2 linked regions of the Homo sapiens genome follow. The protein of the gene in region 1 interacts with the protein of each later gene in a biochemical or structural test. Each region holds a gene or a part of one and is shown on either strand. Other genes may lie near its edges.

What was found.
Region 2: of the proteins of IFIH1 (region 1) and RNF135, one has a biochemical effect on the other in vitro, tested with the Homo sapiens proteins (one study listed by BioGRID).

Annotation. Positions count from the first base shown.
Region 1 is NC_000002.12:162,279,325-162,290,567, reverse strand, and holds part of IFIH1 (interferon-induced helicase C domain-containing protein 1), read left to right. Parts: intron 1-2,212; coding exon 2,213-2,433; intron 2,434-7,991; coding exon 7,992-8,202; intron 8,203-9,022; coding exon 9,023-9,240; intron 9,241-10,455; coding exon 10,456-10,572; intron 10,573-11,243.
Region 2 is NC_000017.11:30,985,419-30,996,661, forward strand, and holds part of RNF135 (E3 ubiquitin-protein ligase RNF135), read left to right. Parts: intron 1-2,525; coding exon 2,526-2,688; intron 2,689-8,421; coding exon of another isoform or gene 8,422-8,486; intron 8,487-11,243.

The sequences.
Region 1 (11,243 bases):
TCAATATTGACTGAAGAATAAATTTGTGGTACATGCCTACTTAAGTAGCAGTAAAACCTCATGACTTCAGTTCTGAAGTTAAATTGTAAACACAATAGTCCTTTTAACATTCTCGCTCTTCTTAAATGTATCAGCTTAATAAATGATTAGAATGCATGAGTAATATTAATATTTTACTCATTTGATTTGGTTCTGGATTCTCGGGAAAGAGACTTAGGAAATTGCTATATCTTTCTCTTTGTAATATTTCTTATTCAAGGATATAGTAGTAAGCATGAAAAATGGGGGAAATTATTATTAAAATGTACTCTTTTAATAGTTTATTCTGCAACTATTATGAAGGAAGGAGCATTTTATTAGTATTCTTAAAATCTACGCAAAAATGAAACTCAGATGAAATTAAACAAAGAGGATTTATTCCTATATTTTAACAAACTTCCTAGATCAAACAAAAATTTAGCAGTAGTAAATTTCTGGGTCTTTGTTTAGACACTTTATAATGCATCTTCCTTTGCAAATATACTGGCTCTTTTGGAAAAGTTAGATGACAAACTATCCTAATAGAGGTGAAATATCATGGTTTTGATAGTCTATGAAAGCTACAGAGGGCTAACATTGTTCTTAAATAAATCAGAGCCTTACATAAATATAATACAAGATGAACTATTGTAAATATTGTAGAGTTCAAAACAAGCATGGAAACTTATAAAGGTATATTTTAAATGCTGGTGATTTTAAATGAGTTTTTCATAAAAATCATATTGAATGAATCAGCAGATGATCCAACGATAGCTTAAATGTATTGCATCTGTTTTTACTCATCCATACAAAAGGCAAATTTCCTGCCAGGTTAGTAGATGATCCTAAGTGGTATTTGGTGTGAATTTTCCTACCTGTTCAGATAGTACTATCACAACAAGTTAAAACTCACTCAAATAGAATTATCCAGGGGCTGAAATGGAGCCATCAGCAAGTTTTTTGAAGTTAATGGGATTATGTTAGTTTAGTTTTATTGCAAACATTGATAAGAAAAAGAAGTTATTTCATGTGTGATGAAATATGGATAAATACTGTTATTTCATTTTTTCTTCTTATTATATAAGTCATAAAATGGGCTTTTAAATTGGTATAATATTTATGTTACTTCATTTCACATTATAAGCTATGCATTTTTTGATCTTTTTCCCCTGGTAATATAGGTCAATATGGTCACTTCTAAATAAAATATATTCTATCTAAAACAAGACATATTATAATAATTTTATTTTAATATACATAAAGTTTATGTTAGAACTTATTTTATCAGTATTTTAAATTTAAAATCCATGTTAATTGAAAATATTTTTAATATATTATACTTTGGATTTTAGAAAAAGTTGGAATATGTGGAGCCATAAACATAAGGAAGTAATAAAGATAACAATTCACAAATAAATGGCAAAAGTAGTCATGATTTAGTTTAAACCAACAAAATTATTTTTACCTTTCAAGGAAAACCTACCAATTAAAGGCTAGCATAGGAAGAGTTTTTTCCTCTACTCTCTAAATAACACTTCTGTACAACGTAGTTGCCTCAGATGGAAAAAGGAACTTGAGATAGATAGGGTGTCTGTGTGTGTGTGTGTGTGTGTGTGTGTGTGTGTGTGTGTGCTTTTTGGTATTTGGTTGTCAGATAAAGTTTCTACAAACGAAAGAAAATAGTATCAGCCATAATACCTTCTTTGCAATTAAAAAAAGGGGAAATACGGAATTGGGAGGACTAATGATTCCAACTTTCTCAGCTCCTCTTGATTTTGTAGGTGGAAGGGCTAAGTGAAACAAGCAGGGCATAGTGGCTCCACAAAGAAATGGGAAGTCTGATGCCTTAACAACTAGACCTGCCAATCCCGCACCACAGCCCTTTCTACAAATTCGCCTTGGCTTCACCCACTCTGTGAAAACACTCCCCCATGTTGCTCCTTCCAGTCCTCTTAATTAGTTGACTCCCTCTGCACCCCCACACCCCCAGACTCCTTCTGTGAGAGGGAGCCTGTGTTGTATTCTGCAGATGCAGAGAGCAGACATTAATTGGTACAGAAAAGAGAAAATGAATTGGTTTGGACCACATGTGAAAAGGAGTTTAAAGCACAAGAGGCCTACGTTCAGTTTCAGGCTTCCTAAGCTCTGTTATTTTGTTGTCCCTTCTCTTATTTTTCTTTTCAACCTTCTTCAGATGAAGAGAATGTGGCAGCAAGAGCATCCCCGGAGCCAGAACTCCAGCTCAGGCCTTACCAAATGGAAGTTGCCCAGCCAGCCTTGGAAGGGAAGAATATCATCATCTGCCTCCCTACAGGGAGTGGAAAAACCAGAGTGGCTGTTTACATTGCCAAGGATCACTTAGACAAGAAGAAAAAAGCATCTGAGCCTGGAAAAGTTATAGTTCTTGTCAATAAGGTATTCAAAGAACACATAACACTAGTTGATCATTTTCATTGTATTATTCTGAAACTTTTATATGATGGCATTTGTGTCATTGACTCACACATGTTTAGTTTAATTAAGAGTAATGTCAAAATAAGCTCTTTATTTTATCTTTAATCTTTTTTAGGTATATGTAATATCTAAGTGATGAACCTGAAAATAGAAATTTTTCAATAAAACTAGGACATTATACCAAATAGCTATAACTTATGTAGCCCCAACACCTGGGAGTTAGTTTTGATTCATCTGCTTCCTTTATTTCCCTTATCTGGTCACAGGTTATATTTACCCAGATATACTTTAAGGTTAACTAGCTAATTTATCATTGCAAATGAATATGAATGACCCCAAAATATCACTGGAATCAAGGATCAAATATTGTTTTTTACTTTCTCTTTAGCTGTTGACCCTTAGTCAAAGATGGCAAGTCCTCTTTCTCCAGAATACATATAATGTGGTTTGGAGATAAAATTAAGTGAAGGTTTGGTATCTACATCAAGTTAAATAGATTTTAAAATGCTCAAGAAGTATACATATATATATATAAAATATACACATATTACATTAAATGCAACTGAAGTTTTCCTTCAATAATTTATATCTTAGGGTATTTGAAGGCCATCTTCATAAGTAAATATGTCTGCTTCACCGTAAAACAAAATCTAGTCATTTGAGCTTTATTCAGATAAATGACAGTTTATTAATTTATAAATATACAAATTGGGGATATGAATATTTACTATTTTATGGAATAAAAATGAGCATACTTTTCCTTGATCAGAAAGTCTTTTTTCTGTTCTTATCTATTCCTTTATAAAAAAAAGCAGTAGACTGTAAAATATTCTATTTTTTATTTCTATTATGCTAAAAGTTTTAGTTACATCCTGTTTTTCAGTACTTAGAATCCATGATTTGAATGATTCCTATCATGTAGTTCCAAATGCATTTTGTGTGCATCTGCTAAGTCCAAAGAGCTCTCCTTTATACTTGTATACTTACTATTAAAACACTTTTATTTATTTTGCTGGTAATGGTGACACATTCAAATTTGTTTGCCGATAGACTTGCATATGTATTCCCTTTGTACAGGATATTATTTTTTTAAATGAAATAGGTTTGAATCCTATTTCTACCTACCGGTACTTTGAATTAGACAAATTAGTAACTTCTCTAACTTTAATTTCTTCATCTGCAAAATGAACAAAATAATAACTACCCTGCTCTGAAATTTCAATTGGATTATATATGGCCTAGTAATGACTCCTGCTTTTACTCTTAAATACTAGCTTTCTCCTGCTCCTTTCTCTTCACCTTCATAACTCATGAAACTAAGTAACATAACCAGGGAGGCTTTTAAGTGCCAAATCCAAAGAAAAGAACCAAGTTAACTGGATTCAAAGCTACTTAAACTGATAATTTTGAAACCATTTGAGCATCTGCCATTTTCTCAAACTCAGCCTCACCATCTACCCTCCCAAAGGCTCCTCTTCCCCATTTACCTGTCTCTTTGTGAGTAATACCACCTCCTCCAAAGCATGCAGCCCCCACACCTAGGAGTTAGTTTTAATTCATCTACTTCCTTTATTTCCCTTATCTGGTCACAGGGACATAGGCTAATAGAGTTGAAAAGGGGCTTCGAGATTCAGCTTTCTTCCTTTGCAGAGTGGTTCTCTCACTTCTGCAGGGTAACTTCCTAATATCAAGGAGGTCCCCCTACTAACAAGACACTGACACTCTTAGAAAGCCCTATTTGTATTCATCCAAATCTGTTTCTCTGGAATCCCACAATCACCGGTTAGAGTTCCTTCCTCTGCAACCACACGAAGTCCTAATTCTCCAGCCTAATGACAGCCCTTCACATAGACAAGGCAGCATCATGTGGCTCCTAAGTTACTTTTTTTTGTTGTTCCTTGGAATAAATGTCCACAGTTCCTTTAACTGTTTTCCATATAACATGGTTTCTAAACCTGTCATCATTCCTAGTGCTCATACTCCTTCAGACATTTTTCTGGGACACTCTTAAATGCGGTGTCCAGAGTTGGGCAAAATACTACAGATAAGATCATACCAGTGCAGAGCGTAGGAGACATGAGATATGACACCCAGCTTATGACCGCATTTGCCTCTGGCATCCACAGACTTATCTGGACCTTGTCATAGAATCAAAATCCTCAGTTCCTTTTTATTTGAAAATCTCTTAAACTAGAACATTCTTAATTTATTTTTGTGCAGTCAGTTTCTGAGCCTAAATTCAAATACTTAGGTTTATTTCTTTAACTATTGATCTTTTCAAGTCTCATATTTTTGTATGTGTCTGATGCATCTTCCTTTCTATAATATTCCCTTCTCTTCTCAATGCTATATTCTAGCCAGGAATCTTTCATTGCATTGGATCTACATGATTCTTCGGAATGCACATTTATGGCTATGTTTAAATATTAATTTATCCTCATTAATTATTCACATTCACTGCATTGTTGTGTGGACACCTGGGGACTTGACTCTAATTCCTTATTGCTTTTCTATTGTTTTTCTCCTTAGAATTACTAGAAATCCCTCCACTAATTCTTCCATCTATGTCATAATTGTTTACTATACCATCTTTTTGAATTTTAAATTAATTTCAGTTTTAATTCTTTTTGATTGAGTCAGAACACCTCTGGCCCAGTAAGTCTAAGTAACCTGAATCTTGTGTTTGGCCCAACAACAAGGTATTGTTACCCTTGATCTAGAAAAAAGAAATCCTGTTCTCTAACACCATTTACTTTCATCTCCCTTCCTCCGTCCTTTCCAAAGTTATAGCCTTCGAATGCAGAGAGAAATGAAAACACCACCTGTGTTCCCAGACTTTCCATTTCCTATCTAGGGCTTCAACATCATGAGAGATAAATCCCAGGTTCCTTCAGATGCTGCAATGCAGCCCCATATGATTCAGCAGAAGTGGGTAGCAGTTGGGTTTGATTAGTCTTGGCAGGCACTCTGTCACATCTCAAGAAAAGGCTCCAAGAGGACCACACACCTCCCAATTAGCCATGTCAGACTTGCATCTGGCTTTCTCTGTGTCCTTCAGTAGGAAGTCAACACCACCCAGAGCGAGTATCAGGATTTCCAGCATCTGCTATCTCCTGTGACAACTTCTTTTTGTTCTGTACATCAGAAGGTGCGGCTTCTTTTGAAGATTTTTGACTCACCTTTTATGGGCAGAATTTTGTGGTGCAATGTCACTCCATAATACAGAGATTCTTAATTAAATCATTCAGCATGAGTGTATTTAAAGACAAATCAAATGTAGATCTTGTCCTCACGAAATATACAGTCTAGAAGAAAGATGAGAGATATATGTTGATAATATGATAATTAATATTTTATTGCACTTTATAAAGCACTCTCAGATATATTATCTCATTAAATCTACACAGCAACCCCATAAGGTAGTCTTTATTATTCTCATTTTTTCCCATCAGAAAACTGAAGTTTCAAGACTTTAATTGGCAATTCAGGGATCATCCAGCCAAGAAACAGCAGAAATGAGACACGAACTTTTATCTTCTGAGTCCACTGGTCTTCCTTTGCCACTGCACCCTCCTTCTAGAATAAAAGGATTGGTGAAATATCGTGGAAGTTTTAGTACTGACAATACAGCATCCTCTATTTCATTTAATTTTCACAACCCTATAATAGGTTAACATTATCCTCATTTTATTAATCTGGAAATTGAGAGCATTAAGATGATTGAGACCTTGTCCAAGGTACAAAGAAGTAAGTGGCTGGAGTAGCTGTTTTCAGGGCTTTCTTCCCTCTGCATCATGCTGTCTCTTTCCACTAAACTTAATTTCCATTCTTTTCCTCAGAAGCCTTCTGTCTTGCATAAATGAAATGGAAAGAATACTTCTAGAAAATGATTCAAGAACGGCTTTGTGGAAGAGAGAGAGAAGAGCAGAGCTGTGACTCTCAAATTTTAAAGGCTTAAATGTCATTAAAGTGAAGGTTTCAAGCCTCTGCCCCCCAGAGATTGTCCCTAGATTCAGTAATTCTTGAGTGGGACTTAGGAGTCTGCATTTTCTAAACTTCTCAAGCGTGTTTGTAACAGGTAGATTAGAGAGACTTTACTTTGAAAAAAAAAAAGAACTAAATGAAAGTTTCTCTTCTTACTCTTTCTACCCTTTCCACCTTGTGGTAAGGTAATGTTCTTTCACTCACCAACTTGATTACTGATTTTAAGTCCACTTTGCTTCCTTAGAATTTATGGATTTCATTTTAACTCTTCCCCACCCCTTCTTCCAGCCCCCCAGACACCTACTTTTGGAAGCCTCCATCATTTCCACTAAATAATAAAGTAAACCAGTGTTCTTCATAAGGTAGCTGTTCCCTTTAGCCAGGGGGATCAGCCATTCCTTATTTAACACCTAAGTGGGACTTACCTCAAGTAAAAAGATGAATAACACAAACCCTACAGACTAGGAGAAAGGTAACCACTGATTGCATTTCTGGTAGAATTATGGAGAGTGAATAATATAATGGGCATTCTTTGAAGCTTGCCCTTGAAACTCTTCCTGCCAACTCTCTGTTTCCCATATTGTACACTGCTGGGCTTCCATTGCATAAATCTTCCTAGGATATGACCTTCAAGATGGCCTTATATTTTTTCTCCTAATCCAGAAGGTATTTTGAGTGACTAGTAATGTGTAGCATTGAGGTGTCAACCCAGCTACCTTCAGCAGATGTTATAACATACAGAATCAGCTGAGAAGGACCCGAAGTTTCCACTTCTTTTGCCAGGTCTACTTTCGGGTTTGTTCTTTCTCAGCCACCACAGCTATTCCAGCAGCTCATTTCTTCACTTCACATCTGTTCTCCTAGTCAATGCCCTAACTCCTCACTTGTGGTTCCCTGATTCTTCCGGTCCTGTGGGCCTGTTGCTTCTGGTCTAATCCAAAACAAACAACAGGAATAAATCACTTCAACAGTACAACTTGTAGGGATCCTGTAAACTGTTATACTACATGTAAAATACTCTGCTTGATGTTTGCAGCCCTTTATAACCTGGCACTGCTCTACAAATTTAAAAATGTATTTCTTATTCAACCTTAGCTTCAGTTTATCTTTTCACTGACTCATGGCTTACTAGATTCAAATTCCTTCAAATTCCCCTTTTTTGAGTCGTCAGTTGCTTCTTCTCTTAACTGTCACTTTGTGTGTGTTTCTAGGTGAGCATTATTACATTGTGTTGTAATAATTTGTCTTGCTTTGTTTAGTCTTGGTCTGTATGATCAGCTAGACAGAGTTCCTCAGAGTTGTCAACCATATGTTAAATATCTTTGTGTCCCAGACATAAATGCCCACACCTAACAAGGGTATAATCAGTGCTTATTGACAGATGAATGAAAGGAGTGATGGGAACGTTGTTATGCCTGATTCACTGATAATGTAAACACCTCTTTTCATGCTGGATGCCAAACAGGCCTTTGATCAACACTCTTTTGGCTTCGACTAACTTTCTCTCTTTTAAAAAATCTTCACATTTTTTTAAGGTACTGCTAGTTGAACAGCTCTTCCGCAAGGAGTTCCAACCATTTTTGAAGAAATGGTATCGTGTTATTGGATTAAGTGGTGATACCCAACTGAAAATATCATTTCCAGAAGTTGTCAAGTCCTGTGATATTATTATCAGTACAGCTCAAATCCTTGAAAACTCCCTCTTAAACTTGGAAAATGGAGAAGATGCTGGTGTTCAATTGTCAGGTCAGTTTAAGTGTTTATTTTTTTAAAAAAATTAATAGTAATATTGATGATAACAAAGGCTGTATTTGTTAATTTTTTAAATGTTCGTGGCTTAAATTGTCTTTTATTGCTTATGGTTTTATTAAAATCCTTCTACTTCCTGGAGGAAACAAAAAAAGTAAGTTTTTAATTAGACCACTTTATTCTGCATAAGAATACCATTATTAAGGCAAGCACTCGCTGGACTTTCCATTTATTCTGACAAGTTCCTTTATTTGCTATTGAATGTTGTTAGATCTGCTTCCCTTTCCCATAGAATAAAAATACAAATCTTGTCTTTTATGGGGTATAGGATGAGAAGGTAGGAGAAAGAATGGAAAAAAATAAAAATAATTTATAATAACTAAATGCAATGTTAAAACAAGGCAAAATTTTCCCTCTTTAAATAGTGTGTTTTTCACTTGATGTAATAAAAATAAAATTCACCAACCTAAAATTAAATATTTTATTAAAGAACAAAAGTAAAATCCTGAGATTTGTTTTGTAATAAGCCAGGGTGTGAATTCCACATCTAACGCTTTTTAGCTCTGTAAACTTTCTGAATCTTATCTATTAAAGAAGGAGAATGTCTAACAGGGAGTTTCATGATTAGTATATACGAACGTCTGTGTGTACAGGTGCTAGTATAGTTAGATTTCCCTCCTAAAAACTGAAAGTGGACTGCTCTTGTGTCGTGCCCAAGAGAAGGCATCCCCAAGGCAGCTCAATTACTGGTCTAAAGCTATTTTCTCACTGTAGTGTGCTGATATGGAGAAATGAACTCTTTGAATTTTCTTTTAAGACTTTTCCCTCATTATCATTGATGAATGTCATCACACCAACAAAGAAGCAGTGTATAATAACATCATGAGGCATTATTTGATGCAGAAGTTGAAAAACAATAGACTCAAGAAAGAAAACAAACCAGTGATTCCCCTTCCTCAGATACTGGGACTAACAGCTTCACCTGGTGTTGGAGGGGCCACGAAGCAAGCCAAAGCTGAAGAACACATTTTAAAAGTAAGTCATAATTTTATGTATAACCAATGAAAGCAAAGCTAAAACAAATGCCAGGACTTCTTGGTCTTATTAAATAAGATTGAGTTCAAGTGCTGTGATCATCAGTTAAGTGAAATCTGTTTGCTTTAGTACAATAAATATACTCAGTCTTCTACAGAATACTAATATGCCTTAATAAATATCAATAACACAAAATCATATCATAAAAATGATGGAGAGTGATATAATTAATGGGAAGTTGAGATAAATAGAATGCCTTCTTTTGAACATCTACTCTTATGGTTAAATTTAATGATCTACCTGATATAGAAATATGCATAAACTATGAAAGTTTCTAGTTGTCACACATAATAAAGTCTTACTCCATGAGTTTCAAAACTGCGTATTTTCTGTCCTTCATATGTTATTCTAGGAATCTAGGTAATTCAAATTAAAGGGAAATAGGGATATGAAGATCTTTAAAGATGAGCTTGTCAGCTGCCCCCTAATGGTAACACCACATACAGTGCTACTGTTAATCTTGAGTGTTAAGTAAATCAGAGTAGCCCAAGAAGTATTTTGGTACCAAGGCAATTGCATTTGAATTTTAAGTCCCTTACTTTAAGTTGAATTCAATACAAATTATGTAGAGTAGACACAACATTCAGAGATGCAATTATAGGCTCCAAAATATAATTTATTACTGGGATTAAGGACTAATTCCAATCTAATAATCAAGGAACATGACTAAGGATGCTCCCAGCTTTATGTGTAGATGCCTGCTTTATGTGTAGAAGAAGGTGGTAGTATGATCCACGGATGTCAAGTTGACCTTTGATATGCCTCATGTAACATGGTTATCTCAAAATCATTCTCTGTCAATGATGGTAAATTGTTATACTCTTTCCATGTCAGTTTTCCACTTGGAAAATGGAATTTAAGGAATGAATATCAATACACCTTTTTCTCTGTTATTACACCAACTTGATTTAGAAGCTCCTTTTTCCTATATTAGGACAAATGTTGCTGATTGTGGGTTAATGAGATCCATAATAAAACAATGTTAAAATGCTATATTTAGCAAGCAATGCTACATATTACTTTCATGAAATTTTATACCACATATTTATGCTACAATTTAATGCTACATATTTTTTACATGAAAAAGAGTTCTACGTTGAATAAAGTGAAAGGGAAAAATAATTGCATAAATATTGAAAAATGTCTCTTTTCCAGCTATGTGCCAATCTTGATGCATTTACTATTAAAACTGTTAAAGAAAACCTTGATCAACTGAAAAACCAAATACAGGAGCCATGCAAGAAGTTTGCCATTGCAGATGCAACCAGAGAAGTATGGGCTTAATGTTTTATATCTATTGATTGACAATACTACATTCAGTAGAAAGATGGCAAAGGCTATTTTATACTGACCATCTGAAAAATATTATTTAAAAATTTTAGCAAACAAGTTTCAGGTTTTTTTTTAATTGATGTTAGGCAGTAAAGCACTACAGTGAATTCTCGCCTCTAGACCTCTTTTAGTTTTCTAATTTACATGAGGAATAGCTTATTCATTGTTTGTACATATGAGTTAAAAGGGACAGTGAGGGGCCATGGGCAGAGGGATGTGTAACTAAGCTGGAGGGGTTATGACAGTTCGTTTTAGCCTTTTTAATTTTCTTCGTGAATTCCAGGATTGATTTTCTGACATTCCACAGAGCCATTTTGTTGCTATCAAATTACATTTGGCAATGATAATGGGAATCCTATCTAATTTGCATACTTGCATATTTACTTTCTTAGGAAAACAGTGCAATGGTAAAGAAGTGAAATATTTACTTTAATGATGCTTTTCTGATGAATTTTTCAGGAATTATAAGAATAAACTGAGAGTCAATTTGGACATTATGGCCAGTAAATTATGTCAATACTTTATTTTGTAAAATTTAGAAAGCATTACAAATTCTGGCCATATGTACTTGATAATACCATTGAAAATAAGAATGTTGGGATCAAATGATA
Region 2 (11,243 bases), on another chromosome or scaffold:
GATTTCTCATCTCAATGCTTGCCCCATTATCTTTCCAAGTACAGAAGCCAGAGACCTGGAAATCATGTTACCTTCTTCTCCCTTACCCTAATATGCAGCATATTGTAGCTTTAAGACCTGCCTAATTACCTCTCAAATCTATTTACTTATTCTTGAGCTCCTTTGAGACTTGCTCTAATCCAAGCCTCTGATAATTTCATGTCTGGATTGCTGTCATAGTCTTCCAAATGCTCCACTCTCCCTCTTCTAGTCTGTTTTCCTCATGGTCATCACAGTGACTACCACAAACATCAATCTGAAAATGTAACTCATCTGCTTAAAACATTCAAATTACATCAGTTTGCTCAGGAGTAAGACCCAAATCCTCACAGGACCAGCAAAGCCCTGTAGGATCCCATCTCTGTCTGCCTCTCAAATCTCATCTCTGCTCATGCTGCCTGGCTCTGTGCGCTCTAGCTACACTGGCCGCACAGTCGCTCTAGTGTGTCTCACGTCTTCCCACTACAGGGCACCCTTCATGGAATGCTCTCCTTTCCCTCCATCACTTAGGTAATACTTGCTCATCCTTCAGATCCTAGCTAGAACGTCATTTCTTCAGAAAGAAGCCTTCAATGATTTCCTTGAACAAATCAAATCTCCCCATTAGAGGCTCTGAGGACTCCATGTACCTTTCATTTGTAGTGGTTATCACCATTGCACCTTTGTAATGTCTTGTGCCATACTCTATATTAATGTCTGCCCCCCTCCCTTTTCCTTCACTGGACTCTCAACTTCAGGAGGATAGGGACTTTTGATGCTTTTTTTTTTTTTGAGACAGAGTCTTGCTGGAGTGCAGTGGCGTGATCTCAGCTCATTGCAACCTCCGCCTCCTAGGTTCAAGTGATTCTCCTGCCTCAGCCTGCCGAGTAGCTGGGACTACAGGTGTCCGCCACCACTCCTGGCTAATTTTTGTATTTTTAGTAGAGACGGGGTTTCACCATACTGGCCAGTCTGGCCTCAAACTCCTGACCTTGTGATCCACCTGCCTCGGCCTCCCAAAGTGCTGGGATTACAGGCGTGCGCCACATTGCCTGGCTGATGCTTTTGTTCTTTTGTCCACCATTGTGTCCCCAGGCGCTAGCACAGTACCCAAGTACCCACTTACAGTAGGGGTTCAACAAATACCCACTGAATGTATGGATAAATCCATCTTTAGGGATGCGATGTGTTGGGATAGAAACGCTGAGAGTCTGACTTTCAGAATTGACATTGTCACTCACTAGTATTATGACCTTGGGCAAGTCATTTCATCTATCTGCGTCTCAGGTTCCTATCTGTAATATAGAAATAATGATACAGGGCCTGCCACATCATTGGTTTATTGTGAGGATTAAAAGAGGTATAAGAAAGTGCTTGAGCAATGTTAAAATGTGGGATGTTATAATTAACTGTGGCAATTTAGTTAACCTTCATGAATTTCATCTTCTTTTGTAAAACGGAGATTTTTTACAGGTTGATAAACCTACTTTGTGAGGTTGTTATGCAAATGAGAGAAAGGCAATATCTAGCATGTAGAAAACACTCAATAAGTGTAATACTACCGTATTTTGATTGGTGGAAAGAATGGGGAGTGGATTATGCAAAGGTGGGAAGGAAAGGGGTTGAAGTTGGTGAGCAGATAAAGGGCTGTATTGGGGAAGAACAGGACCTGAGGCTAAAGAAAATCAGGGAGCATGTGTTGAAGGCCCTAGAAAGCAGGACCTGGATGCAGGCAATTTGAGAGGGAGCTCTTGCGAAGTGAAATGATATAATGATAGAGGTGGGAAAAGGTTCCTTTTTTTTTTTTTGTGAAATGGAGTCTTGCTCTGTCGCCCAGGTTGTAGTGCAGTGGCATGATCTTCTCAGCTCAGTACAACCTCTACCTCCCGGGTTCAAGTGATTGTCCTGCCTCAGCCTCCCATGTAGTTGGGATTACAGGCACTTGCCATCATGCCTGGCTAATTTTTGTATTTTTAGTACAGACAGGGTTTCACCATGTTGGCCAGGCTGGTCTCGGATTCCTGACTTCAGGTGTTCTACCCTCCTCAGCCTTCCAAAGTGCTGGGATTACAGGTGTGAGCCACCACACCTAGCCGAAAAGGTTATTCTGACCTCCATGGTTTATCTCAGTAACTATCTGTAGTATTTATTTTATAAAGCCCCTATAAGATGCGCCTAGAAATGTTAAACTTTTTTGGTATTACCTAAGAAATCCATGTTTATTGTGCAAAATATTAGAAAGCACATAGCATTAAATAAAGCAAATTAAAGTGCTCCATAACTCCATCACCCAGAAATAACCACTCTTTGATATTTTTGCTGTACTATGTACAGCAAATTATTCCAGATTTTTTTCAAGGCATATTTTTTGAGGGCCTAATTTTGTTTTTAAAAACTTGCTGGGAATTAAATAGAAAATTATAGATGAATAGAAAAACTTGAATATAATAGTTGATAGACTGCATAGGGGACTTCCATTTATTCAGTTTTAAATGGTTTATCAATAGGCTTTTTCTTCTGGGGTGGATCTTTCCATGGCTTCTCCAAAGCTGGTGACTTCCGACACAGCTGCAGGGAAAATCAGAGATATTCTCCATGACCTAGAAGAAATTCAGGAAAAATTACAAGAAAGCGTCACCTGGAAAGAGGCTCCTGAAGCACAAATGCAGGGTGAGCTGATCTTATTTATTGGAGGAGGATTAAATATGGAAGTTGGGGGGAGTAGCAGAGTGCTCTATGGCTTTGTTCTCTGGGGATAGGATCCCAGAGTCCAGCTGTATTACCACTGTGGTGTCGTGAATCAGGTAGGGGTGGGCTGAAGTGATTTTGTGGCTGAATATGTTTTTGGCAATGACTGAAGGTGTGATGTATCACAAGTCCTTAATAGATAGAAACTCATTTTTGAAGATCCATGCACACAGGTCCTTACTGATCAAGTGTGTTATCTTACTGCAGAGATTCTGAAATAGGCCACTTTTAATTTTTTTTTTTTTTTTTTTTTTTTTTTTTGTGATGGAGTCTCACTCTGTCGCCCAGGCTGGAGTGCAGTGGCACCATCTGGGCTCACTGCAAGCTCTGCCTCCTGGGTTCATGCCATTCTCCTGCCTCAGCCTCCCCAGTAGCTGGGACTACAGGTGCCCGCCACCATGCTGGCTAATTTTTTGTGTTTTTGATAGAGACGGGGTTTCACCATGTTAACGAGGATGGTCTCAATCTCCTGACCTTGTGATCTGCCCGCCTTGGCCTCCCAAAGTGTTGGGATTACAGGCGTGAGCCACCGTGCCTGGCCTTAAATTTTTAACTAGTAAATGTCTTCTTCTTTTTTTTTTTTTTAATAATTTTGTTTTGTTTTTGTTTTATTTTGAGACAGAGTCTCACTCCGTCACCCAGGCTGGAGTGCAGTGGTGCGATCTTGGCCAGAATTACAGGCGTGCGCCACCACGCCTGGCTAATTTTTGCGTTGGTTTTTTTTTTCTTTTCTTTCTTTCTTTTTTTTTTTTTTTTTTTTAAGTAGAGACAGAGTTTCACCATGTTGGACAGACTGGTCTCAAACTCCTGACTGCAAGGCTCACCTCAGCCTCCCAAAGTGTTGGGATTACAGGCGTGAGCCACTGCACCTGGCTGTAAATGTCTTTCTTAACAAAGCATATAGGCCAAGTGCAGTGGCTCACGCCTGTAATCCCAGTGCTTTGGGAGGCTGAGGTGAGAGGATCTCTTGAGGCCAGGAGTTCAAGACCAGCCTGGACTACAGAGAGAGATCCTGTCTCTACAAAAAATAAAAAGTAACCAGATGTGGTGGTGCACACCTGTAGTCCCAGCTACTCTGTAGGCTGAGGCTAGAGGATCACTTGAGCCACGGGTTCAAGGCTGAGTGATCATGCCACTGCATTGCATCCTGGGCAACAGAGGGAGATCTTGTCTACAAACAAAACCAGCATGCCACTTTGTAACTAGTTCTTGATACAGTCTATTAAAATATAATCTCTGGGGAGTGTGTTAATGTTAATATTAAACAGTACCATATAGAAAAGAACCTTTCTGTCCTGATCCTGTAGTTTCTCTGTTGTTCTTCCAGAGTTATTGAAAAATAACTAACACCTTCCTGTCAGACATTAGACGTTAGCTCTGTCTGGTCTCCCAGGGTTCTTCCTCCTGCTCTGGCCACTGCTATCTTCATATGCTTTAGAGGCATTTCTTCTGTAGCTTTTCCTCTTCTGATAGCTTTTATATCCTTTATATTTTCATATTTAAACAATCTTATGCTACTTAAAAAATCATTTCTGGCCAGTGCAGTGGCTTATGCCTGTAATCCCAGCACTTTGGGAGGCCGAGGCGTGTGGATCACCTGAGGTCAAGAGTTCAAGACCAGCCTGGTCAACCTGGCGAAACCCTGTCTCTATTAAAAACACAAAAATTAACTGGGCATGGTGGTGGGTGCCTATAATCCCAGCTACTCAGGAGGCAGAGGCACAAGAATCACTTGAACCTGGGAAGCAGAGGTTGCACCATTGCACTCCAGCCTGGGCAACAAGAGTGAAACTCTGTCTCAAAAAAAAAAAAAAAAAAAAAGAATCATTTCTTATGTAAGTGGAGAAGCATGATTCCTTGGAAAAAGTTTCTTTAGGAAAACAATTAGAGAGCAGTTTATTGTTCCAAAAATTATCTGAGAAAGAAGCACCTTTGTATTCTGTGTGCTTCTAAACTTAGGTTGGGTTCCTTAGTGATTTTATTTATACAAATTTAAGATCAATTTTTAAATTTTGGGGGGTTAAATTTAAAATTTCATATTCAAAAATCAAAACAGGGCTGGGCGCGGTGGCTCATGCCTGTAATCCCAGCACTTTGTGAGGCCAAGGAGGGTGGATCACCTGAGGTCAGGAGTTCGAGAGCAGCCTGGCCAACATGGTGAAACCCCGTCTCTACTAAAAATACAAAAAATTAGCCGGGCGTGGTGGCACACTCCAGTAGTGCCAGCTACTCCAGAGGCTTAGGCAGGAAAATTGCTTGAACCCGGGAGGCAGAGGTTGCAGTGAGCCACTGCACTCCAGTGTGGGTGATGAGCGAAACACCATCTCAAAACAAACAAACAAACAAACAAAAACAGTATAAAAAGGGCATACTGCCCAGTCTCTCTTCCATCCTTGCCAATTGCCCCATTCTCTCTTCTCAGTGCACCACTTTTATTACCGTTTTTTTGAGTGTCTGTTCAGAATTTATTTATGCAAATGTCAGCGAATATGAATTTATATTTTTATTTCTCCCAATCTTTTTTTAATACACAAAAGATAGCACATTATATACATTGTCCTGCATTTTGCTTTTGTCTTTTACTTTATACATCTTTATTTTATAGTACAGTAGTTAGGACATTTTTCCTTGCTTTTGTTAGTACCTAGGGCATTTTCTCTTACAGTTGCTCAGTATTCCAATATCTGGGTATGCCAACATTTATTTACTCCATCCTCTGCAGATGAATACGTGATTGTTTCCAATTGTTTACAATGACAAATAATGCTAAAATCAATAACTGTGTATGTACATTGTTTCATATGGGTGTAGATATATTTGTAGCTCAAATTGCCAGTGAAGGTTGCTGGGTCATAGGGTAAATTCATTTGTCATTTTGATATACATTGCCAAATCACCCTCCAGTTGGGTTATACCAGTCTTCACTCCCACAGAAGAAGTGTGTGTCCCCAACCTGCCAACTGAGTATGTTGTCAAACATTTGTCTTTTTTTTTAAACCAATCTCATGGGTCAAAATATTGATGTGAAATTAGCCAGTCTTGGTGGTGGGTGCCCGTAATCCCAGTTACGTGGGAGGTTGAGGCAGGTGAATTGCTTGAACCCGGGAGGCAGAGGTTGTAGTGAGCCAAGACCGTGCCATTGTCCTCCAGCCTGGGCAACAAGAATGAAACTCTGACTCAAGAAAATACATTGACGTGAGAGTATACTGCGCGTTTTTTTTCTCTTTCTCTTTCTTTTTTTTTTTTTTTGAGACTGAGTCTCGCTCTTGTTGTCCAGGTTGGAGTGCAGTGGCCCGATCTCGGCACACTGCAATCTCCGTCTCCCAGGTTCAAGTGATTCTCCTGCCTCAGCCTCCTGAGTAGTTGGGATTACAGGCACCTGCCACCAGGCCTCACTAATTTTTGTACTTTTAGAGATGGGGTTTCACCATGTTGGTCAGGCTGGTCTCAGACTCCTGACCTCAGGTGATCTGCTTGCCTCGGTCTCCCAAAGTGCTGGGATTACAGGGGTGAGCCACCGTGCCCGGCCTATACTACACTTTTAATTTGTGTTTCTCCATGAATTGTCTTTCATATCTTGTGTTATTGGTCTTTTAAAAATTGACATTTAGGAGCTCTTTGTAAATTAAAGAGATTAAACTTTTGTCTGTTATATGAATTGCAAATTTTGTTCCTTAATATGTCATTTGTCTTTTTATTTATCTTTTATGGGTTTTATAATGCCATATAGACATTTTTAAATTTATGTAATTTTTTTTTTTTTTTGAGAAGCAGTTTCGTTCTTGTTGCCCAGGCTGGAGTACAAAGGTGTGATCTGGCTCACTGTAATATCTGTCTCCTGGGTTCAAGTGATTCTCCTGCCTCAGCCTCCCAAGTAGCTGGGATTACAAGCCTGTGCCACCACACCTGGCTAATTTTTGTATTTTTAGCAGAGACAGGGTTTCCCCATGTTGGTCAGGCTGGTCTCAAACTCTTGACCTCAGGTGATCCACCTGCCTTGGCTTCCCAATCTGCTGGGATTACACAGGAGTAAGCCACTGCGCTCGGCCTTTACATAATTTTTTATAGAGATGAAATCTCACTGTTTTGCCCAGGCTGGTCTCAAACTCTTAGGCTCAAGCAATCCTTCTGTCTCTGCCTGCCAAATTGCTGGGATTACAGGTGTGAACCACCATGTCTGGCCTCAATTTTTTTTTTTTTTTTTAGAGACAATAGACAGAGTCTTGTTCTGTTGCCTAGACTGGTTGACTAGAGTGCTGTGGCAATTCCTGGTCTCTAAATGTTTCTTTTTTATTTTTTGAGACAAGGTCTTACTTTGTTTCCCAGGGTGGAGTGCAGTGGTGCGATCATGGCTCACCCCAGCCTTGACCTCCCAGGCTCAAGTGATCCTCCCTCCTTAGCCTCCTGAGTAGCTGGGACTGCAGGTGCGTGTCACCGCACCTGGCTAATTCTTGTATTTTTGGGTAGAGACAGAGTTTTGCTATGTTTCCTAGGCTGGCCTGGAACTCCTGGGCTCCAGCAATTAGTTCACCTTAGCTGCTTGAGTAGGTGGGACTGCAAGGTGGCGCTACCACACTCAGTTAATTTTTTGTTTATTTTTTTTGTGGAGAAGAGGTCTTGCTTCTATTTTCATGTAGTAAATTTTGTTCATTTTTTCTTTTATGCATTGTAGATTTTAAGTTTTAGTTAGAAAACTCAACCCCCTGAAGTTTAGAAAGGAATTTTCTCAGGTATATGTGTGTGTTTGTACTTACACAGTTTACATTTAAATCTTTGGTTTCATGTTTTACATTTAAATCTTTGACTCACTTCAAGTATATCTCAGCATGTATCCTAGTGCATTTTGTTTTATTTGTTTATTATTATTATTATTATTATTATTATTATTAATTTTGAGACAGAGTCTCACTCTGTTGCCCAGGCTGGAGTGCAGTGGCGCGATCTCGGCTCACCACAACCTCCGCCTCCCGGGTTCAAGCAATTCTCCTGCCTCAGCCTCCTGAGTAGCTGGGATTATAGGCTCCCGACACCACATCTGGATACTTTTTGTATTTTTAGTAGAGATGGGGTTTCGCCATGTTGGCCGGGCTGGTCTTGAACTCCTGACCTCAGGTGATCTGCCTGCCTTTGCCTGCCTTGGCATCCCAAAGTGCTGGGATTACAGGCATGAGCCACAGCACTTGGCCTTATTTATTTTTTAAATAGAGACAGGGATGTCACTTTATTGCCCAGGCTGGTGTTGATCTCCTAGCTTCCAGCAATCCTTGTGCTTTGGCTCCCAAAGTGCTGGGATTACAGGCATGAGCCACCATACCGAGCCCCTAGTGAATTTTAAGTAAGATTTGTGTAGTGCCACTTTAGAGACATATCTCATAGCATTTTCATGTTTAATGATATTGCTCTGCTTAAAATGTTGCTCTTAACTGGAGAACCATGATTCTTTGGAAAAAATTTCCATGGTTAAGTGTAGATTATTTCTCTCATCAATAGAGATAAAAAAAGTATTAGGGAGTGTTAATTTAAAAAAAAAAAGTAAATAACTTCAGTAGGTTTTGCAAATGCTTTTTAAAAAATTTTTTTCCTTTCTTTTTCTTTTGTTTATAATCTGCATTCTGCTGAATTAATTAATTAATTAATTTTTTTATTTTGACACAGGTTCTCTGTTGCCCAGGCTGGAGTGCAGTGGCACAATCACTGCAGCCTCGATCTCTCAGGCTCAGGTGATCTTCCTTCCTAAGACTCCCAAGTAGCTGGGACTACAGGCATGTGCCACCACACTCAGCTAATTTTTTGTACTTTTTGTAGAGATGAGGTTTTGCCATGTTGCCCAGGCTGGTCTCCCACTCTTGGGCTCAAGCGATCCTCCTGCCTCAACCTCCCAAAGTTGTTGGATTACAGGCGTGAGCCACGGTGCCCAGCCAAACATTTTTTAAAAACCTATTAACAATAAGTAATAATCGTATCAGCAAAATAGGAGAACAGTGATATTCATCTGAATTTTGTGTTTTTCTAAATTGTAGTGAAAATACATACAACATAAAATTTACTATCTTAACTATTTTTAAGTAGGCAGCTCAGGCAGGTGCAGTGGCTCATGCCTGTAATCCCAGCACTTTGGGAGGTTGAGGTGGGCAGATCAGTTGAGTCCAGGAGTTCAAGAGCAGCCTGGGTAACATAGTGAGACCCACTTCTCTACCAAAAATACAAAAACTAGCCTGCTATGGTGGCACACACCTGTAGTCCCAGTCCCAGCTACTTGGGAGGCTGAGGTGGGAGGATCACTTGAGCCTGGGAAGCAGAAGTTGCAGTGAGCCGAAATCAGGCCACTGCACTCCAGCCTCGGCAACAACAACAAAAAAAGTAGCAGCTCAGAGCTCAGTACTGTTAAGTATGTTTACATTATCATATAACCAATCTCCAGATCATTTTCTTTTTTGTAACTTTATTTTATTTTATTTTTTTTTTTGAGACAGAGTTTCACTCTTGTTGCCCAGGCTGGAGTGCAATGGCATGATCTCGGCTCACTGCGACCTCTGGCTCCTGGGTTCAAGCGATTCTCCTGCCTCAGCCTCCCAAGTAGCTGGCATTACAAGCATCCACCACCACACCTGGCTAATTTTTTTTATATTTTTAGTAGAGACGAGGGTTTCACCATGTTGGCCAGGCTGGTCTCAAACTCCTGGCCTCAGGTGATCCACCCGTCTCGGCCTCCCAAAGTGCTGGGATTACAGGTGTGAGCCACCACGCCTGGACTGTAACTTTAATTTTAATTTTTTAGGATCAGGTCTTACTTTGTTGCCCAGGCTAGAGTACTGTGGCACAACTATGGCTCACTGTAACCTCAATCCTCCTGCTTCAGCCTCCCCAGTAGCCAGGACTATAGGCCCACACCACCATGCTCAGCTATTTAAAGAATTGTTTTGGCCGGGACAGTGGCTTACGCCTGTAATCATAGCACTTTGGGAGGCCGAGGCGGGTGGATCACTAGGTCAGGAGATCGAGATCATCCTGGCTAACACGGTGAAACCCCGTCTCTACTAAAAATACAAAAAAATTAGCTGGGTGTGGTGGTGGGCGCCTGTAGTCCCAGCTACTCAGGAGGCTGAGGCAGGAGAATGGCGTGAACCCGGGAGGTGGAGCTTGCAGTGAGCTGAGATTGCGCCATCGCACTCCAGCCTGGGCGACAGAGCGAGACTCAGTCTCAAAAAAAAAAAAAGAATTGTTTTGTAGAGACAGGGTCTCATTATGTTGCCCAGGCTGGTCTGGAACTCCTCCTGGCCTCAAGTGAGCCTGCTGCCTCAGCCTCCTAACTAGCTGGGACTATAAGCATGGGCCACCATGCCTGGTTTCATGTTGCAGAATTGAAACTCTATACCCATTAAGCAACAATTCCACATTCCTTCAACCCCCTCCTACCTGGCAACCACTATTCCACTTTCTGTTCTATGAATTTGACTATTCTAGATACCTCATGTGAGTGGAATCATACAGTATTAGTGTGTGAGAGGTTTATTTCACTTAGCATAATGTCCTCCAAGCTCACCTATGTTGTAGCATATATCAGAATTTGTTACTTTTTTTTTTTTTGAGACGGAGTCTTGCTCTGTCACCCAGGCTGGAGTGCAGTGGTGCGATCTTGGCTCACCGCAACCTCTGCCTCCCGGGTTCAAGCAATTCTCCCACCTCTGCCTCCCTAGTAGTAGCTGGGATTACAGGCATGTGCTACCACCCCTGACTAGTTTTGTGTGTGTGTGTGTGTGTGTGTATTTTTTAGTAGAGATGGGGTTTCGCCATGTTGGCCAGGCAGGTCTCGAACTCCTGACCTCAGGTGATCCGCCCGCCTCAGCCTCCCAAAGTATTGGGATTACAGGCGTGAGCCACCACGCCCAGGCAGAATTCATTACTTTTTTTTTTTTTTTTTTTTGAGATGGAGTCTCACTCTGTTTCCCAGGCTGGAGTCAGTGGTGCGATCTCGGCTGACTGCAAACTCCGCCTCCCAGGTTCAAGTGATTCTCCTGCCTCAGCTTCCCAAGTAGCTGGGATTACAGCCATGTGTCACCACACGCAGCTAATTTTTGTATTTTTAGTAGAGATGGGGTTTCACCATATTGGCCAGGCTGGTCTTGAACTCCTGACCTTGTGATCTGCCTGTCTTGGCCTCCCAAAGTGCTGGGATTACAGGTGTGAACCACTGCGCCCAGGCAGTATTCGTTACTTTTTAAGGCTAAATAATATTCCATTGTATGTATATATCACATTTCTTTATCCATTTTTCTGTCTCTGGACACAGGGATTGCTTCAGTTCCGAGTTGAATTTTGAGACTGGCCTCTTTACAGGCAGCTCTCTTGCTCTCATGACCTAAGTTACCACAGGCACACCCTAGACAAGGTCTTTCATCTCTTCTCAGGTGGAGTCTTAGATTCACTGCAGCTGCTGTCACTTCAAGATACAAGTAGGACAAGATTTTGCCTTCAAA